Regions from separate parts of the Homo sapiens genome. Here region 2 is linked to region 1. A link means that fine-mapping ties the variant in region 1 to the expression of a gene that starts in the linked region. Tissue or cell type: skeletal muscle. Region 1 holds a variant in brackets; the other region holds the start of a gene. All regions are shown on one strand. Distances are from middle to middle.

Region 1 (10,843 bases):
TATGTCGCCTTTCATCTTTGTAGCCATCTTATTTAGGAACAAAAATGGGAGGCAGGTTTGCATGACCCAGATTCCAGCTTGAATCTTCCCTTTGGCTTAGTGAGTTTGGGGTCCCAGATTTATTTTCCTTTCACACTGCCAAAGAGGTTTTCTCTGAATATTAAATAGTATTAAAGTACTTTGAGTGAGCATTCCACTCAACATAAGCTGAGGACTAAGCTCTGATTCTTTTTTTTTATTTCTATCTTTTTTATCTTGCCCAAATTCCTATCTAAGGGGTCTGGGGAGTCATACCCTACCAATGATTAACTATCATCAGATGGGTTTTATTTAACCCTATATATCATGACTTACTTTCCAATCTGACTCTGGCATAACATTATTTGACAAAGAAGAAAATCAAAATATTTTACCCAAAACATGTTTCTTTGCCGTGTTTTGAAATGGGCCTGCAAGACCATCCATTGTGGGGGAAAATTTGCATCTGTAAAAATTCTCTATTGATATAGCTAGATCTTTTTCTTCCAGGCTCTCCCAATCCTGAAGACATTAATTGAGAGTTTAGCACCTTTTAAAGGTCTGAATAGAAAAAACATTTGTCATCTATTGTCTCTAAGGGCAACCACTATGAGACTTCAAAAGAACCTTGGTCTCCACAATCTTTTATCTTAACCTGAACATTTCCTTTCCATTAATTCCAGACAAACTCAACCATTTATAAACCAGAAAATGTTTAAATTTACCTATTGCCTGGAACCCCCTCCCCACCACTCCGCTCGAATTGTCCCACCTTTCTGGACCAAACCCATGTATTTTTCAAATGTATTTGATTGATGTCTCAGAATCACTTTAGGGAATGATGTTTCATGCCTCCCTAAAATGTGTAAAACCAAGCTGCACCCCAATTCCTTTGAGCAGATATTCTTGGGACCTCCTGTGGGCTGTGTCACAGGCCATGGTCACTCATATTTGGCCTAGGATAAATCTCTTCAAATATTTTACAGAGTTTGACTCCTGTTGTTGACAAGCTATTGTTTTAGCTTTACCAAATACCTGGGTCATTGTAATTGCTCATGTATTGTAGTCAAACCTCAGTCAAAGAGAAACATGTTGATAGAAGGGAAGGAGTCTGTAAGAAATTTAGGGGAAAATGTAGAGAGAAAACCCAAGAGAAGAATAGTTCATATTTATTCAGCAGCCCGGTATATGGCTGCTTTGATCACTGCCCACAGAGATTTTCTTACCCTTGACAGGCTAGCTCGTAGGGCATCAGTCTGTCTCAGTTGAAGGACACTGTTAAAATTCTCAGTTTTTTACCTCCTGGCCAGCTTCACCCTTATCAAACGCTCCTCTATAAAACACCCCAAGAATCATTCTTATAAGGTAGAGACACAAGTTAGGGTAATTTCCTCTACAATATTTCTGCATCAATACTAGCTCTTAAGGTGCATTTAAATATTATTTGTAGTTGCCTATTTCCCACAGACTGACTGTGAGGAAGCTCACAGTAAAAATACATTGATAGAGTGGCTTAAATATCAAGAAGGCCTCAAAAACCAAAGAGAGATGGGGAAGATAATTGTACCAGGAAAAGGGAAAGATATAATTATTGTAATTAAGCACTAATTTTAGCTCCGAAGACATTAAGGTCTGAATTGCACTTACTTTTCAAACTCAGTCACTATTCTACGTTTTAATCCTTTATACAATTTTGTACCTTTATACAAGTTAGAATTATATTGGTAATTTATTCAAATCTTCTTTTATCAGCATTCTCAGTTCCCTTAAGCCCAATATTTAAATGTTTAAAATGTCACTCCCTGCTAGTGATTTTTTAAAGGAACTATTATCATTTTATGTTCAGTACACACACACACACACAGACACACACACACACACACACACGAGTTTCCTCTTTAGTATATGTCCTAGATCAATGTGTCTGGTTACTATTACTCTTGGATCTTCTCAACTCTCCTCACCCCACTACAATATCACATCTTTCCCTTCCATCACATTGAAACATCTGAAACAGCTCTCATAAGGAAAATCACAGCATACATTTTGCCAAGCCTATCTTCATCCTGCTTGAATTCAAAGCACCATTTGACATCGCTGACCATTCGCTTCTCTCCTGTCCTGGCTTCTGCTTGCATGTTTTCTTATTTTTCTTTCTACCTCATTAAAAGCATCTTACTCACTCTCTGTCATCTTTTCCAGGCCTCTAAATATGGGAGTTTCTCAGCATTCTGTTCCAGAATTATGATTCCTTATATCTCTAAGAGTAAAACACAAAGGCCTGCAAGACTCTATGCGATCTGCACCCCACTCCCTTTCTGACCAGGTAGATACATTTCTAGGTACATCAGTACTCTCCTGGATATCAATACTCAGAAATACTTGTCTCCACTTACCATCTCCATTTTCTTTCTTTCCATTTTCTCTAGAACCCACCATGATCATGTTTTCATCTGAAGCACGCCACACCACTGAACAGCTGTTGTCAAGGTCACAAGTTACTACCTAGTTGCCAATATAAAGCTTGATCTTCGGTCCTCCTCTCATCCGACCTGTCTGGAGCATTTGAAAAGTTGATCACTCTCTTCTTTGTAAAATACTGATTCACGTGGTTCTAGGACACCACTCATTCTTTTTTCTTTTCTTACCTTACTGGTCTCTCTCGTTCTGTATCTTTTGCTTACACCTTCCCCATCTTCCAGACCACTAAACATTGAAATTCCTAAGATTAGTCCTGGATCTATTTTCTTCTCTATTTATACTCATTTCCTGGGTGATCTTACCCAGTCACATGGCTATAAATATCATCTATATGCTGAAGACTTCCAGATTTTTATCTCCTCTCTGGACTTCTTACCAGAAATACAAATTCATATATTTAACTGCCAACTACACATATGCACTAATAGGCATTTCAAATGTAGTATGTCCATACCAAACTGCTAATACTTTACTCAAAAACTCGCTCCATCTACATTCTTCTCCATTTTAGCAAATGGCTGCTCCTTTATTTTTGTTCAGTTGTTCAAGCCAAATGCTTGGGAGTCAGCTTTGCCTCCCTTTTTATTCCACACCACATACCAATACTTCAGTAATTCCTGTCAGTTTCTACCTTTAAGAAATAAAAATCAAATCAAAATAACAAGAAAACTACAGCAGAATCTAATCTGGCCACTTCTCACCGTACCATCTCCATTGCTTCCACCTTGGTGCAATCATGACCTCTTGCTTGGATGACTTCCAGAGTCTTCTAACTGGCTTCTAACTAGTGTAACTAGTCTGCTAACTGGCTTCTACTCTTGCCTTTCTACAAACTACTCTCTATATAGCAAAGTGATTCTGTTAAAAAGTAAGTCAGACTATGTCACTCCTCTGTTCCAAACCATCCAAGGGAACCGCCCTCATTCAGAGAAAGAAAACAAAGTCTTTATACCAGCTTTTAAAGATTTACCTAATCCAGTCCTTTGTTTCTCTGACCTCATCTTCTATACCTCCTTCTCTTGCTCTCTTTCTTCAAGTCACACTCACCTCCTTGTTATTCGTTGAACTTGAAGGTATTAGGCATGCTACTACCTTACGATATTGTTATTTTTGCTATTTTCTCTACCTGGAATATTGTTCCCACAAATAGTCACATGTCCCACTCCCTTTCTTTCAGGTCTTAATTCAAATATCACCTTCTCAGAGAGACCTTCGCTGATGACTTTATATTAAAAGCATCCTGTCACTTTCTAACCCTATTATGCTGCTTTATATTCTTCGTAGCATTTATCATCAACTGAAATATTACATGTTTATTTGTTTATTGTCTTTCCCGCCTAACTAGAATATAAGTTTATGGAGATAGGATTGCCACTGTTTTGCTTACTGATATATCCTCAATACCTAGAATTCTCCCTGGCATATAGGAGATGCTCACTAAGTACTAGGTCAATGCATGAAACGGACTTTCTTTTCAGTCTACAGCTCTGTTCATAGATTCAAATACCTTCGACGGCACTTTGAAAACAATTCATTTTTCTCGTTAAACCATTTTAGTATTTGTTGAGCTAGGCGCTGAAGCTGCAATAAGAAAAAATAAGGTATTTCTTGCTCTCATAGAGTTAGATCAGTTTCTCACTTTCTTCTTCCCGGTTTCCTCCCCTTGCCACCACTCACACTGAAATGCAGTCCTTCTGTGTTATACACGTTAATACAATGCTATTACTCATTATGTGGCCAGCCAAGTTAAAACCAGAGTGGGTAATTTTATCTCCTTTTTCCCTATACCTTCAAATCCAGTCACTTACCCTGTCCAATCAGTTCTACCTAGTATATCTCTAAGATTTATCATTTCCATTTCACTTCTACTGGCAAATAGATTCCACTTTCTCCAGTCTCACCACGACCTTCTTAGGCTCTCATAATAATCTTCTACTTAAAAACTAGTTCAATAAATTTTCCTGCCTTCTTGCCTGTTCCCCTTCCCTCCAATCTATTTTCTACATTCCAGCCAGGGTGCTCTTTCTCAAATGCAAATACGACCAGTCTCTCCTCTGCTAACTACCCTTTGATGGTTCTCCATTGCTCACAGGACAAAATTCAAATATCTTAAAATGGTGTTTAAGACCTTAAATGATTAGGCACCTACTTACTTCTCTAGCACTATATTTTATTAGTTTTTAAGTCCAGCTCACATATGACTGTCTTTAAGCATCTTCCCAGATCTTCTTCTATTCCATTTACACCACTGGCACAACCTGATCACACTACATTAGAATGAGTAGTGTGCCCAGGAGACTGGCAGTCTTTTCAACTGGAGTGTCAGCTCTAGATACTCACTATGCAATTTCAAATACCTCCTCTGCTGAAATTGTGTTCTCTCCCTTCCCTGACCTCATTCTGTGTTTTCCCTCCTTTCTCTTAACACCTTTTATTCCAGCTAGTGCTGTACTGCTCTCCCCACTACAGACTGAAAGCTCCTGGAGGGCAGGACTGTGTGCCTCCTGCCATAGTCAGGTTTCCAACCTGTGTACCACTGGTCCTGGTGGTTTGCTCAGAGTAGTAGGTACTCAGTCAGTACTTGTCAAATGGGCAGATTGTGCCTATAAATATTTGTACTCATATTGCATTTCTGTCTTTTCCTTTTGATGATATAGTTTCATCATTTACAAGATGCTGTTATGATATTTATGTCTATTAGCCTTTCTGCTAAATAATTGCTTGGCGCTCCCTGTTTTTCTAAATTTGGTAAAAATATCATAAAAAAGCATTTGGTAAATTTCTCACAGAAAGCCAAACACTTTTATGATGTGAGAGACTTGATTTGTTGTATTTATATCAAGTCAATATTGGTTTAATCTTAAATTCACCATTCACCATCTTTTTTGTTTCTCGTTATCAAAACTCATTTTTTATGACTAATTTAATCATTGACTGAACTCACTCAACAGTTGCCCATAGTTACTAAAAGATACAAAATGATACTGTTTATAAGCATTTAGGTCAAAAATGTTCAAAAGAAAAATCAACTAAACTGATACTTTTAATTAGTATTTTGAGGGTTGAGGATTTTTAAAAATTTGTTTTTCACTGAAACTGCTTTGGTAAAAATCAGTACAAAAACAATTGATTTTTTAATTGTCTGGTTTGAAGAGACATGTTGGAGTAACAGAAACAGTCACAACCAAATGCAGCTTCTTCTGGTGGTACACTTCGTTCCATGATGTGGATCAGTTCTAAATATCATTCCAACTATTCTTAGATTCAAGTTATGATACT[G/A]TTTTGTTCTTTATATTTGGCTCTGTTTGTAACTCAACAAGTGTCTTGGGTAAGTCCCATGAGTAATAGAAACTGAGAGTAAGCTAGATCAGAAATACTGGATATGGACGATCATTATAAAATGCACATGTTGACTTCTCAAATTATGTCAAGTGACAAGGCTCTTTTTGACACATTAAAGTGATCTGCTCTCTTCAATACTTAATTTATTACTAATGAGGGACTGCAATTGCTTCAAATTAAGTAGCCTACACTTATCATAAGATCTGGCACATTTCTACTTCTGTTTTTAAAAGAATATTTGAAATTAAAAATGTAGAAAATTAGATGCATAAAAATGCATTGTCTAATCAATAACCATAATCATTACCAGCTGTCAAAATGTATCTTAAAATGTTATGAGCTAAATTATGCTGTAAAGACATGCATAATTTTTTATAGAGATTTAGCTGTATTTGTTGACCCATTGATCTCACTCCAGTACAGCATGAACCAAGGAAATAAAAGGGGAACAGAACATAATGGAAGAAAGAACACTTATCCAGGAGGCAAGAAACTCAGCTTAACCATTTATTGGCTGTCTGAATTTGGGCAAGTCACTCTCCACTGTATGTTTCCATTTTCCCACCTGTAACATGAGATGGTTGGACCTGAGCAAAGGTTTCTGACTGCCTGGTAGCCCATGCTGATTCCATGATTCAGCCCATGCTGAAAATTCAATTCAGTTCCGTTCAAGTCAGTTCAATCCAACAATCTTGAGGGACAGCTATTGAAGCAGAAGTTAAAAAGAGAAAAACAAGTTTTCCTATACTTGGCTGACTCACTCCAAGGCCAGCAATAGGCAGGGCCCTGGCAAAGTCTCAATAACACTATCTGGAAAGCCAGAGCCCAAAGGAATGAGCTCCGGAGACTCTCCCAACAAACCCCTCCCCCTCCCTGGAGCAAGGATAAGAAAAACAAATTCCTTTACTATCTCCTCTTCCCCCTTACCATTACTCAGTGTCTCAAGTTTTGTAAGTTCCTGTTTTCCCTTCCATGCAGCTGTAAGGTCACAAGCTATGCTTAGGTTACAAAACCTGTCACAGTTTGATTAACTGCCTTTGTTCTGCTTCTGTAAGCCTGCCTGCCCGCCTCACAGGTTTTGTGCCCTCAGTTTCCTGCCACTGCATTAAAACTAGCCAATTCCCTTTCAGAAGTGTATATAAAAGTCAAGCCCTGTGTTTGTTCAGGGCTCAGCCTTTGGATGTGAATCTGCTGTGCCAGTAGCCACCTAAATAAAATCCTCCTGTTCCACCCATTGGTCTCTCTGGTCTTCTGATTCCCACAACACTACAGCACCATATTATAACATAATACTGCCAAATGTAATATAATATAATATGAACATGATAAAAGTTTTTAAAATCAGATAAGAATTTGACTCAACTTACAATCTATATGATCATAAAGAAGCCAATTCAAGGGAGGTAGAGGAATATGGTGGAATAGAAAGCTTCACTGATAGTTCCCCCAGCAAGGACATCAGATTAACAGCTATCTACTCAGAAAACACACCTTTATAAGAACCAAAAATAAGGTGAGCACTCAGTACCTGGTTTTAGCTTCATATCACTGAAAGAGGCACCAAAAAGGTAGAAAAAACAGCCTTGAATTGCTGATGCCACCCCTCCTCAATCTCTGGCAGTGGAATCCTGGTACAGAGAGTATCTCTGGGCACTGGGGGAGGGAGAACACAGCAATTGTGAAGCATTGAACTCAGTGCTGCTCTGTTAGAGCAGAAAAGAAAAACCAGACCAAACTCAGCTGATGCCTGCCCACAGAGGGAGCATTCAAATCAGCCTTAGCCAGAGGGGAATTTCCAATCCCAGTGGTTCAAACTTGAGTGCCTGCAAACCTTGCCACCCAGGGCCAAAGTGCTCTTAGTCTCTAACTAAACTTGAAAGGCATTCTAGCCCATAAGCACTGCAACTCTTAGGTGAGTTCAAGGGCTTAACTAGGCCTAGAGATAATGGATTAGAAGGCCACATGACATACTGTGACACCAGCTTTGGCAGGCAAAATGTGCTGGCATCACCCCTCCCCTAATCCCAGGCTGCACAGCTCACAGCTCCAAAAAAGACCCTTTTCTTCCTCTTGAGGAGAGTAGAGAGAAGAGTGGGGAGGATCGTTTCTTGCACCTGAAATACCAGCTTAGCCACAGCAGGATATGGCACCAGTCAGAGTCAAGAGGCTCCCATTCCAGGCCCTATCAGCCAGATGATATTTATAGATATACCCTGGGCCAGAAGAGAACCTATTTGAAGAAAGGGATCCAGTCCTGCTAGCATGGGCTCTGAATAACCAGCAGTAATATCCAGGTGCTATGCTACATCAAGGGTTTTGGTGAGCCTCTGAGACTTGCTGGCTTCAAGTACCAACATCACCACAGGGGTGTAGAGCAGCAAGTCAAGACTGTTTACTCTTGAATGACATTTCTGGACCTGCCCTGTGACAGAGGGGAGTGCACTGCCCTGAAGGATGAGTCCCAGGACAGACAGCACTCACCACAAGCTGACTTAAGAGACCTTGAGACTTAAGGGAAAATCAGTGGTAGTCTGGCAGTACTCCTTGTGGCCAGGGGTGGCTCCTCTGCCTTTGGAAAAGGGAGGGAAGAGTGGGAAGGACCAAAGCAAATATGGACAAATGGGATCACGTCAAGTTAAAAAGCTTCTGCACAAAAGTTACAATCAACAAAGTGAAGAGACAACCCACAGAATGGAAGAAAATATTGGCAACTACCCTTCTGACAAGGAATTAATAACGAGAATATATAAGGAGATTAAACAGCACTATAGAAAAAAATCTAATAATCTGATCAAAAGATGGACAAAATATTTGAATAGATATTTCTCAAAAGAAGTCATACAAATGGCAAACAGACATATGAAAATGTGCTCAACATTAGCATCAGAGAAATGCAAATATAAACTACAATGAGATATCATTTCACCCCAAATGTCTTGGATATGGCTTATATCCATAAAACAGGCAATAATAAATGCTAGCAAGTATGTGGAGAAAAGGGAACTCTTGGACACTGTAGGTGGTAATGTAAATTAGTATAACAACTATGAAGAACGTTTTGTACGTTTCTAAACCAAGTGATTTGAGAATCACAATGACCAAGAGAGAAATTTCAACTTGGAGACTCAGAGGAAGACACATATATTCTTTCAGTGATCATTTACTGAACTGCATTGTGCTAAGCAGGGGTAAAGTGATGGATAAGAAGAAACACTTGCCTTTCTTCACAAAACCAATGAAGATATTTTGAAACGTTTTTATTCATTGACTCCCGTTAAAAAGCTGATGAAAAGAAAAGATTCTATCCCTAAAAATATGGGCACATGATTTTGCATTTAAGTGTAAAGAGTTCAAGAACTCTTTGGAAATTTATTCTTACATCCCCCAGGCACATGGACTCCAGATTCAAACCTCCTAATTTAGTTGGGGGTTTTATTTAAAAAGGTAGCATTTGAATAAAGTCCTGAAAAATGGTTCGAATTTCAGATGGGAGCAAAGAACAGTGTTCTTGGACTTTGAACCTGTGATGGTTATTATTAAGTGTCAACTTGATTGTATTAAAGGATGCAAAGTATTGTTCCTGGGTGTGTCTGTGAGGGTGGTGCCAAAGGAGATTAACATTTGAGTCAGTGAACTGCTAGAGGTGGACCCACCCTCAATCTGGGTGGGCACCTTCTAATCAGTTGCCAACATGGCTAGGATAAAAGCAACAATACGTGGAAAGACTAGACTAGCTACGTCTTCTGGCCTCCATCTTTCTCCTGTGCTGGATGCTTCCTGCCCTCGAACATTGGACTTCCAAGTTCTTCAACTTTTGGACTCTTGGACCTATACCAGTGGTTTGCCAGGGGCTCTCGGGCCTTTGGCCACAGACTGAATGCTGCACTGTCGGCTTCCCTACTTTTGAGGTTTGGAACTCAGACTGGCTTCCTTGCTCCTCAGCTTGCAGACTACCTATTGTGGGACTTCACCTTACGATCGCGTGAGTCAATATTCCTTAATAAACTCCCTTTCATATAGCCATCTATCTTATTAGTCCTGTCCCTCTAAAGAACCCTGACTAATACAGAACCCATCTTTTCCAGTCTCCTGGCTCATACTGACCACTTGCTTTTGCACGTTTGTTGCCTTGGGACAAAGTGCCTCATTTCTTTTCTTGACATTATCCATGTGTTCCTTGAATTCCGCCTGCTTGCCTGTCTTCTGAATCCAGCTCTTTAGCAACCTCAGGCCTCTGTGCTATCCTAGTCTGCCACCCTCCATCTATGCATCAATGCCCTCATATCTAGTTCCTACTTTTCATTGCTAACAAAGTCTTTGGTCTCCCATTCTAACTCCTATGTTGGCTCTATGATGCACTGCCAACAAATGGCCCAGTGGTACAAGTGAACATAGAGGGAAGAGGTATGTATGAGCAGAAGACCTCTCTCAGATCCAAAGCCTATTCTTAAAAAGCCAGCCTGACCTATCAGTTCTGCTTTTGCACTGCCCCAGGTGTTGATCTCTTATGTCTGTATAGGACTTTATGGCTCACGGAGTAGTAGACTAACTACAGTCACAAATAAATCCCAAATCTCAGTGTGTTAACCCAATAAAGATTAGCATTTTGCTCATGCTTCCGTCCGATGCAGGTAGGCAGAGAGGGGGCTCAGCTCCAAGCATCATTTGGGTGCAAGTCTGACCACGTTCCACACATGGCTCCCAAGACTGCTCTGGGAATTGACATTGAGATGGCAAACAGGGAAGAGAGTCAGTAGCAAGGAAAGTCTGGCAGGAACTAAAACACATCCCATTTCACTGGCCAGAACACAACTATGTGGCCTTTCTAATTGCAGTGGGGAGGCTAGGAAAGGCAGCCTAGCTGTGTGCTCAAGGGGAAAGTGAAAAGATGTTAACACATATCAACTCTGCCACGCATGGCCACTACCATGTTTTGTGTGTGTGTGTATGTGTGTGTGTGTGTGTGTGTGTGTGTGTGTGTTTTGAGACAGAGTCTTGCTCT
Region 2 (10,843 bases), 53 kb before region 1:
ATTTATGTCTCAAGTATTCATCTTTGGAAAATTTATTCTGCTTTCAAATCTATCCCTTTCTCTTTTTTTGAGACAGGGTCACTCTGTCGCTCAGGCTAGAGTGCAGTGGCTTGATGATGGCTCACTGCAGCCTTGACCTCCTAAGCTTGAGCGATCCTCCCACCTCAGCCTCCCTAGTACCTGGGACTACAGGTGCACCCCACGATGCCTGGCTATTTTTTTAAATTTATTTTTTAAAGAGATGGCTTTTCACCTTGCTGCCCAGACTGTTTGTCTTGGCATCCCAATGTGCTGAGAATACAGGCGTTAAGTCACCCTGCCCAGCTTTCAAGTCTATTCTGCTTTCAAAGTTAAAAATTCCCTAATCCCCCTGTGAAAACGAAAATGTGGTGTACTGGAAAAACCTCAAAGATCTGGGGTCAAATCTTGACCATCACTTACTCACCATGTGACCTCGGGCAAACTGTTTACCTTCCCTGAATTTTATTTTATTTTATTTTATTTTATTTTATTTTATTTTATTTTGAGAGAGTCTCAGTCTGTTGGCTGGGCTGCAGCGCAGTGGCATGGCCACAGCTGATGGCAGCCTTGACCTCCTGGGCTCAAGTGATCCTCCCGCCTCAGCCTTCCAAGCAGCTGGGGCTACAAGCATGTGCCACCATGCACCACTGATTTTTGTATTTGTTGTAGAGACGATTTTTCCCATGTTGCCCAGGCTGGTTTTGAAATCCTGGGCTCAAGTGATCTCCCCACCTCAGCCTCCCAAAGTGCTGGGATTACAGGAATGGGCCACCATGCCTGGTCACTTAACCTCATTTTTAAAATAAGTATGATAATCCCTTCCTTGTTCATAGAACTAAATGAAATAATATTTGTAGGCAGCACAGCAAAGAAGAGGCACTCAACAGACAGTAGCTACTATTGAATGGGTTAATTATGATCTGAAAACTTCCTTTCATGTTCTAAATTCCAGAAAATTTGTAAAAATGGGCTATTAGTATGTTTTTCAAATTATATAGATAGAAAAAAGGGTTCCATTGTTAAGTAAGTCTGTGAAATGCCACATGCCATATCCCTTTTCCCTTGGTAAATAAAAGCTCATTTAAACATAATTAATTGTGTTGAAAAATCCCAAAGTAAAAATAAAATGTTTAGCTTTACGGAACCAAGGGTCTTTTAAACTTATTTGATCATGGAAACATTTCTTCCCAGAAGATATATTAACATCCTAAGAACTTTCTTGTATTCCACTTAGAGAAATAGCAAGTGTGTGACCGGACACGGTGGCACACGCCTGTAATCCCAGAACTTTAGGAGGCCGAGATGGGCGGATCACCTGAGGTCAGAAGATTGAGAACAGCCTGGACAACATGGTGAAACTCCATCTCTACTAAAAATACAAAAATTAACCGGGCATGGTGGCACATGCCTGTAATCCCAGCCACTCAGGTGGCTGAGGGAGGAGAATTGCTTGAACCCAGGAGGCAGAGGTTGCAGTGAGCCGAGATCACACTAACGCACTCCAGCCTGGGTGACAGAGTGAGACTCTGTCTCAAAAATAAATAAATAAAAATGAAAGAGAAATAGCAAGTTTGTAACTGTTAAAATGCCAGAATATAAATAAATCTTCAATATTAAAATACACTGAATCATCTGTGATACCTGGATACGAAAATTAAGGCTGATTTGATTTTGAGCAGCAGCCTAAGACAAGGCAAGATAAATGAGGAATACAGTGAAAGTGAAAGACCGCTGACTAGGGCCAAGACTTGGCATTATAATCACTTTCGGTTGGTAGTGTTTTAATGACTTAATTCCAAACTGCCTTCGGAACGGAGGGTATACAGGATCTTGTTGAAATTCTTAGTGCAGTTGTTTTTTTCCCTGATGGAGGGAGACACAGTATATCAGTGTAGACCTACGATTCTGGTTGTACTCCTAAAAAGTCAAGATGAAATAAGGTAAAACATTTGGAGGAAGACCGTGAGAGTATTGCAAAACTCACAATATTTGCATGCTTACATTTTAGGAAGAACATCAATTTTGTTTTTCTTTCAATGGCCATAAATAGTGCTGGAGTTTTCTTAACACTTTTATTTATGTATATATTCACTTCCTTTGTTAAGCTAGCAATTCTGTGTCATTTCCTACTGTTCTATTGGGATGTCACCTGTAGTTCTAGGGGACGGAAAAGGGACTGTGGGACTAAAGGATTGGGTTAATTACTTTGAAAGCAAAATAAGCATAAAACATGGAAGTTGTTACTTCTGTTTTATTTTATGAGTGTCCACTTTATCTTTTTAAGTAGCAAAACATTTTATTTTAAAGCATTCATTTAAAAAAGTTGAATATTAATCACAGATAAGTTCTTAGGAATATTATGAATTGTAATTTATCGATGATCTAGCTACAGTGGCTTTCAGATTTGTCTCCATATCCATATGAAAAATAACATTTCACAGTTATTGCAGTTAAATATAGCCAAGTCTCAGAACAGTTTCTAAAGTTGAATAAAGATAGGCATTTAAATCATCTGATATTTACTGTCCAAATCTGGCCTTTTCAGTTATCACATTACTTAGAATTTTCAGGTAAACTTTTTTTGCTCATTCTATTGACTCTTGTTAACATTTGTAGTAAAAGACAAACATTTCACCTATCTGGATAAAATATATTCAGCTTCCTGAATTGTTAGCATTTAGAATAAATGCCAACTTGTTTTGATACCCATTACTACTTTCAAACTGCATTACACAATAAAATGCAAATGTGAGTTATTAATTAGCAGGATCTGTTTTGTCCAAGTGTGCAAGAGTAGAGGGATTTTTCAACATTCTGCAGCTGTTACCTATGAAGGAAACATCATTCACTTTGCTAAAAGGAGCTGCACAATTACATACGCTGTTATAGACAAATATTTTAGTGTTTCCTTAATGCTATTTCATAATGGATTTCACATTGAATAAGATAAATTTTACCAATGCTGCCCAATTTCTGTCTCTAGGTTGTTTGTAAAAGAGAGGATGATTACAGTTTTCAAGGCAATGTGGAGTGAAGGTAGAGAAAGAGTTCTTCATGAACGACACAATATTTAGCAAGGTCATAAAGAAATATGCCCATACACGCATATCTATTTAAGTATTCATTTACATATTGTACGTGCATCTCTGTATACATGTTGTGCCCGGTGAACATTTGTGTGAATATAACCTGACGGAAGTCCCATAAAATGACAAAAAATGAAAAACAATGAAACATGTATATGAATGACTACTATAGATGATACAGAAGGTAGACCATTATTCACAAATAATGTAATAAATCCTTTGCCCATCAGATGTTTCTACCTAGATTTGGGGCCTTTAAACATCAACCAATTATGGTAAATGTTTAACTGTAGGAGTTCAGGCAGACAGCCAAATTCTGGTTTCAAAGCTGTTGCTAGTTTTAGCTTAAAGATTTTTTTTTTCATTTTTAAGCAAGAACATTTCTGGATACCGGTTGTGCTCTATTGTGGCTAGAGCCGCTGGGATTTGAATAAGTAAATTGGGCAACACACTGGTCCTGAAGAAATGGGCCTGGCAGTATTACCTGAATGTGGCAAATAATAGGCTACCAAGAGTCCTAGGGAAATACTTCCCATTTATAACTTAGCTCTACTTACCTAAAGCTAGTTTATTCCCACAGACACGAAGAGAGAGAGAGTTGTTTTTCTTAGCCAAGCTCCTACAAAAAACAGCAAGGTTGGGGGATGGGAGCACATCCAATGTTTATGCCTTTTGTTTAGGAAAGCCAGGTATCTGAAATACATACATGATAGCCAACTCCTCTCTGCTCCCCTCCCCCAGGTTTATTTATTTTCTTAACAAGCTTATTAACGAAATTATCAATTTGCATGAAACTGGTTTGAACATTGGCCCTTCCTCAGAATATTTCTTATCTCTTGTGGAAGCACTAACAAAAAGGGTAGAAGAAGGGGCCTAGACAATCCACACGTTGGATTTGCAGCCACTGGATATTTCAGATTCAGCTGCTAAAGCCTCTTTGGTATACACAATGAGGGGCGACTGAAGTGACTTTTCTTAGTCCATTTCCTCTCCTTCTCCCCGTCTCCCGAAGGTACTCCGTGGGTCCCTTCCCTTTCTCTCTTCACAGTCCCTCCTGAGCAGTCCCAAAGCTTCAAACCTTGTTCTCCAACCCCCTTTCCCTAATGTCTCCCAACTACCACCCCCTTCCCCAGTCAAACTCCCCTCCCGGTCACCACCAAAGCCCGGAGAAGTGGAATGCACACAATGCCTCCCTTATAGGGCTTGAGCTGGGAACTGGGCATGCTCAGTAGCCAAAGTAGTTTTTTTTTTTTTTTTTCTTTTGGTCGCAAGTGCGGCATCTCTCCCAGTCCCACGCCTCTCTTTCCTCAACCCCTATCCCCTATCCCCTATCCCCACCCCCAGCTCCAAGATCATCCGGCTTAACCCATTCTGCACCAAAGGCCCACGGAGTTCTAAGGTGCGGATAATTAACCCGTCTCCTTCTAACCCGGCTAAATAGTCTCACTTTAGGCTAAAGCCTCACACTTTCGCCTTAAAGCCCCTGGCCCCTTACGCGCAGACAGGTAGGGGGAGTGCGAATACTACTGGATCCTAGGAAATTGGTTCCCAAGAAGGCTCCTTCCAGGATCGACCGCCACGGAGAAGTATTCCAGGAGCCCTCCGTTCTGCGGGGTGACAATTAGCCAAAGGTACCGTACCCGTGATACAAAATCCAAGTATGATTGTTGCATTTGAATGTCATTGTTGTTGACTCATTCCCCTCCATCCTGTAATTATTCAATTCCGCGTAGACTCGACGACCCTATCGATCTCCCTCGGCCCCCCTCCCCCAGGCTCTCCAGTGTTTCTTTGGCTTTTCCTGGCTTCTTGGTTGCTCTCTCAAAGGAATGCCCCGTGTGTGTGTGTGTGTGTGTGTGTGTGTGTGTGTGTGTGTGTGTGTGTTCCTTCGTTATTAGGGGACTGGAAGAGAAGAAAAGGGCTCGAGTGTGTGTGTATGTGGTGGGGGGGATGGAGGCGAGTGCGCCCTTGTTAGAGGACTGGGGTCTCCACGCCTGAGGAAAGGGGTCGCTCCTCCCTAGGGAATGTTTTAGGCAAAAAGAGGGGGCGGATGCCGGGAGGAAAGCGCGCTGTCTTTCTGGGTGTGTGGGTAGAAGAGGAATCAAATGGGCATGTCTGGATGGGGGACGGGGGTAGGAGCTCAGGAATGTGAGGGGGTCAAAGTGGTCGAGTGTCGGGAGGAAGGACTGCTTGTGTGCGGGGTGGGGGGGGGTGGTGGAGAGCGGGGGCGGGGATTCAGCGCGTGTATGTAAAGGTGCAGCCCGTGTGCTAGGCGCTGGGTGCGCGCGCGGTGTCTGCTCGGGTGCGCGCGCGCGCCGCTGCCCGCCTGCCCGCCGGCCCGCCTGCTCGCCTGCTGGGGCTGCTCCGTGGGTTTGACGGGCGAGCGGGCGCGGAGGAGCTCTGTCCGGAATCACATAGATACCATCGTGGAAACAGCAGCGCAGGTCACGGCGCCGCGGGCCCTGCACCAGACGCTGGGCTCTAGAGGTGGGTGAATTTTCAGCGGGGGCTGCACAAGCTGCACCGACACGCGTGCTGCCTCTTCCCCGCTCAGCTCAGTAGCGCGTGTGCGTGCGTGTGTGTGTGTGAGAGAGAGACAGAGAGAGAGAGAGAGATCTCGCGCGCGCGCACGCGAGCCGAGGGGGCAGGTAGCTTATTATTTTTAGTTTGGGTCCTGTTGGTTTGGGGCCGGTTGAGTGGCCAAAGTGGCCGAGGTGGCTAATCCTGCCCTCCACCTCCCACTTGCCTGCCTACGACGCGGTCTCATGCCGCTGAGGACCGGAAAGGATCCGGGTGTCCTTGGCATCGCTGCCCGCCCCCCCCCCCACCATACCCCAAGCGGCCAGGGCGGCGGGGCAAGTTGTACAGGTCTCGGGTGGCTCCGGCTGTCGGGCCGCTGGGCTGGGTTGGGCTTTATTTTTGCACCCCACTCGCAGCCACTTTCCGCAGACGTGGATCTGAGGCTCGGGGCAGTGGCCCGCGGGTTGGTCGGAGATTGCTAGCGCTCGGCAAGACTAGGAATACCAGAGGAAGAGCCGGTGGGTAACTCTAAAAGCTCTGCAAAGCCAGGCGAGCGCTGCCAGCGCGACTTTGCAAGGGGCCTAAATGTTGAGCTGATTTCTGGCATGGTGAGAGCAGGATTTTTGTAGCTGGCCAGGGAGGGAGAACAGGCAAGGGGGAGCCTGGGCCGCCGCTCGCAGCCACAAAACCACAGGGTCACTCTGCCCGTGGCAAGCAGGTCAGTGACTCCCTAGTGCCAACGTCTTCGAGGCGGCCTGATCTGGCCTCTCTTCCTCCTCACCCACCGCACGCCTGGGTCTAGAGAGGTCCACTGAAACTCCGGCAGCTGCCCCTTGTGGGACGGGAGCGCGCGGAGAAATGTGTGAGCGGCGGGACTGAAGGCCCCCGCGACATCCCGCGCGGTACCCCGCCTCCGCTACACGGACCGCCAGGCTGCTGCTTGGGCCCCTGACGCGGAGGGGGCTGAGCGGCCGGCTCCGGGAACAGGGATGCGGCAAAACATTGCGGTACGCGCTAGCAGCCCCTCCAGCCTCCTCGCCGCCCGCCCGAGGTAGCGCACCCGGGCGGCAATGGCCGGGTCTCTCCGCGAACCTCTTCCACCTCCATCCGAGCCTTAGGCGGGCCAGCGGGGTTTCCCGAGGGAGCTCTCGGGGAGCCACCTCGGCCCACCGCCCTGAAGCCCATCAGTGTTCTGCCCCCCTCAGGCCGCTTCTCTCCTCCCAGTCGCGGAGTGCCAGGCGCTGCACTCCGGTGGATGCAGGATTTGTTTTTGGTCGGGCTAGGTTTGTTCAGTCCTGGCTGGTCGTGAGAGCCAAGGGTCTTTCAGGGCACCGAGAGGAAGACGGACAGCTCCCAGCAGCCACAGAGAAGGCTCTTGGTACCCAGCTGGTACTTTGTGGGCTTTTTCTTTTCTTTTTTGCGTTTTTCCCTTGATGTTTAAATGTGCATGTTTCAGTGGTACCACCGGAGTGTGAGGCTTTATTCGCATACATTCAGTGCTCCCTTTACCCTCTTTGTAGCTCCCTTCTCCGAGTTCTTTTTCTTCCTTTCTCCACATTTCCATGGTCTCTTGCCCTTTCAGTACCTCTTTTCCTCTCTCCTTGGTGGACCAACTGGACTCTTTCTCTCTCTTGCCTGCCCCTCCAGCTGCTTGTGGCTTCCTCTGTTTCACAAGAGCTGCATTTGGGAACTTCCTGGCTCTTACTAGTGCCTTTTCCCCCCCTTGCTACTTAAAGTAGCAATCACCAGGAGGAGGGCAGCTCCTTATGCATTTTCAGATGTGTTGAGATTCCTGGTTCTTGTTTTTGTACTGAATTCGGATTATAAGGATTTTTTTTTTTCTGCGTTTGGTTTTTAGTTTGGTTGCTTTTGGGTTTCTTTGTTTTGAGGTGGGTGGGGTGGTGGTTTAGTAACAAGAAATGACTCAACTGAACCAAAATAGCTGTTGAAAACCACATTCATAACAAGGCAAAAAATATCAAGTGAAATTTTGATTTTACAATGAAAGTTGCTTTAGGTGATGTCATAGTTAAGAATTATGACTTCTTTTTGCAATGCCAATCATGCTCTCATGGTGAATAGGGGAAATGCACGTCTATATGGCAGCCAAATAGCATCTCAGCAGTGCTGGCTGTATTCTGAACCAAACTACTTAAAATGCAAATCCTCCTGGGTCATGGCTAATGGGTTGTCTACCTTGAGACATGTTCGGTTTTACCACTAGCTGATTCCTCGTGGGTAAAATAAACAAAGGAGTTTCTGTGCGACACTTCTTTCTTTGCATCATTTCCTTGTTGTGTGTTCCTGGGTATTTTATGTATTTAATTAATATTTGGAGATAACGATATTGAAATTGCACCCAGCTTCCCATTCACAATGGAAAAGACTAATATTGCTAAAATAGTATCAATAAAATGCACTCTGCTTGTGTTGTTTAATCTTTTCCAGGAAGCATCGTGTATGTTTGTGTATATATGCAGTATTTAAGGACCTGAAAACGATGAGTTATTTTGCTAAGCATTAAACTCTACCAACAAGTGATTCTTTATGCGTTTACAGTCAGGGACATGGGGTGGTAATATTAGGAAGGGCGGGTGGGTGTTTGGAACTGATGATTTTAGGACGAAAAATGTGCTGTACTGAACATATTTGGTGCTGTAGCAAAAGCTACTCAAAGATTGTGTTGTGTGAACTCCCCTTCCTCAGCAGTTGCAGTCTGTGGTCAAAGTGAAAGAGATAAAGCAGTTAAGCCGAGGATCAGTCGGACCTGGGTTCAAAATGGTAAATAAAGATGTGGGAGAGGGCCAGGGAGGCAAGAGAGCCAGTTCTCAAAGTGGAAAGACTGCCTGGAGATTAGCTAAGCAATGCAGGAGTAAGCAGGTTACTCTGCTGCTTTCAGAGGCTCCAAGACAAAAGGCTTTTTGCTCCCTCTTTGGGAGATGACTGACAGGAAATTAGAGACTGTTTATTTACCAGAAAATAAAATTTGGCCATCCCTTACTCAGTTGTTTTTCTAGAACCGCACAGCGTCGTCTGTGTCTTTGAAGGCAGCAGTGTACAGGAGTAAACCGATTGACAGCAATGAACTTACCTATGGGGCTACAGCACAAGCAAATCTCTTCCCAGGTCACTGTTCCTTAGTCTTTTAACAGTCCCTGCTACAGCAGCCCAATCCTCCCATTTCCATCCTCCAGTGAACTCTGGGCTCTAATGTTTTTGTTTTTGTTTTTTTAATTCAGCCTCTCTATCTAGCTGAAGCTTAGAGAATAGATATCCACTAATCAAAATGGCTTTGTGGTACAAACTCGATGGCATACTTGATGGTCTCGGTCATTTGAAGTGCAAGTAGGAAGCTTAAGGCCTGTGTTCAAGGGCAGAGTTTGACGGTCCACGTGGAAAAAATATTTTCAGATTGCAAGATTTAAGCATGATTGATAATATATTTTCCTACTGTTAGTTGTGTGTTCTGCACATGTGAATTTGGTATAAACCACAGGTATGGAAAATAAAATGTATGGCAGTTTTAGTGGTTATTATTGTTCGACTGAGTGAGACTATTTGGAGGTTTGATTGCCTTACAAATACAACTCTGGTAATTATAGCCATGTGTTCACTATGGTATGATTTACATACAAGTAATTTTTCAAGTAATGACCATTGAAAAAATGTTTTCTTTTTATTTTTTAGATTATTTCTCTTTATTCAGAAGCATACAGTTGTTTGCTGATTGCAAGAAGATGTTTCTGTGGCTGTTTCTGATTTTGTCAGCCCTGATTTCTTCGACAAATGCAGATTCTGACATATCGGTGGAAATTTGCAATGTGTGTTCCTGCGTGTCAGTTGAGAATGTGCTCTATGTCAACTGTGAGAAGGTTTCAGTCTACAGACCAAATCAGCTGAAACCACCTTGGTCTAATTTTTATCACCTCAATTTCCAAAATAATTTTTTAAATATTCTGTATCCAAATACATTCTTGAATTTTTCACATGCAGTCTCCCTGCATCTGGGGAATAATAAACTGCAGAACATTGAGGGAGGAGCCTTTCTTGGGCTCAGTGCATTAAAGCAGTTGCACTTGAACAACAATGAATTAAAGATTCTCCGAGCTGACACTTTCCTTGGCATAGAGAACTTGGAGTATCTCCAGGCTGACTACAATTTAATCAAGTATATTGAACGAGGAGCCTTCAATAAGCTCCACAAACTGAAAGTTCTCATTCTTAATGACAATCTGATTTCATTCCTTCCTGATAATATTTTCCGATTCGCATCTTTGACCCATCTGGATATACGAGGGAACAGAATCCAGAAGCTCCCTTATATCGGGGTTCTGGAACACATTGGCCGTGTCGTTGAATTGCAACTGGAAGATAACCCTTGGAACTGTAGCTGTGATTTATTGCCCTTAAAAGCTTGGCTGGAGAACATGCCATATAACATTTACATAGGAGAAGCTATCTGTGAAACTCCCAGTGACTTATATGGAAGGCTTTTAAAAGAAACCAACAAACAAGAGCTATGTCCCATGGGCACCGGCAGTGATTTTGACGTGCGCATCCTGCCTCCATCTCAGCTGGAAAATGGCTACACCACTCCCAATGGTCACACTACCCAAACATCTTTACACAGATTAGTAACTAAACCACCAAAAACAACAAATCCTTCCAAGATCTCTGGAATCGTTGCAGGCAAAGCCCTCTCCAACCGCAATCTCAGTCAGATTGTGTCTTACCAAACAAGGGTGCCTCCTCTAACACCTTGCCCGGCACCTTGCTTCTGCAAAACACACCCTTCAGATTTGGGACTAAGTGTGAACTGCCAAGAGAAAAATATACAGTCTATGTCTGAACTGATACCGAAACCTTTAAATGCGAAGAAGCTGCACGTCAATGGCAATAGCATCAAGGATGTGGACGTATCAGACTTCACTGACTTTGAAGGACTGGATTTGCTTCATTTAGGCAGCAATCAAATTACAGTGATTAAGGGAGACGTATTTCACAATCTCACTAATTTACGCAGGCTATATCTCAATGGCAATCAAATTGAGAGACTCTATCCTGAAATATTTTCAGGTCTTCATAACCTGCAGTATCTGTATTTGGAATACAATTTGATTAAGGAAATCTCAGCAGGCACCTTTGACTCCATGCCAAATTTGCAGTTACTGTACTTAAACAATAATCTCCTAAAGAGCCTGCCTGTTTACATCTTT

Alleles and levels. Positions count from the first base shown, and alleles are read on the strand shown. Sizes are in standard deviations (SD) of each study's normalised expression.
As copies of A replace G in region 1, the expression in skeletal muscle of the gene that starts at base 4,372 in region 2 goes down (moderate effect, 0.63 SD a copy in GTEx).

What was found. PIP is the estimated chance that this variant, and not a neighbour inherited with it, causes the effect.
Region 2: it holds the start of SLITRK4, and the variant in region 1 is fine-mapped to the expression of SLITRK4 in skeletal muscle (GTEx, PIP above 0.99).

The regions. Positions count from the first base shown.
Region 1 is chrX:143,576,423-143,587,265 of GRCh38, reverse strand. No RefSeq gene overlaps it. Among named protein-coding and RNA genes, the nearest start is that of SLITRK4, 54 kb to the left of the region's middle. The variant G/A (reference allele first, on the strand shown) is at 5,779.
Region 2 is chrX:143,629,630-143,640,472 of GRCh38, reverse strand. SLITRK4 (SLIT and NTRK like family member 4) reads left to right here and starts at 4,372. Exons shown (of 2, transcript NM_001184749.3): 1 at 4,372-4,738; 2 at 9,315-10,843. The coding sequence starts at 9,365.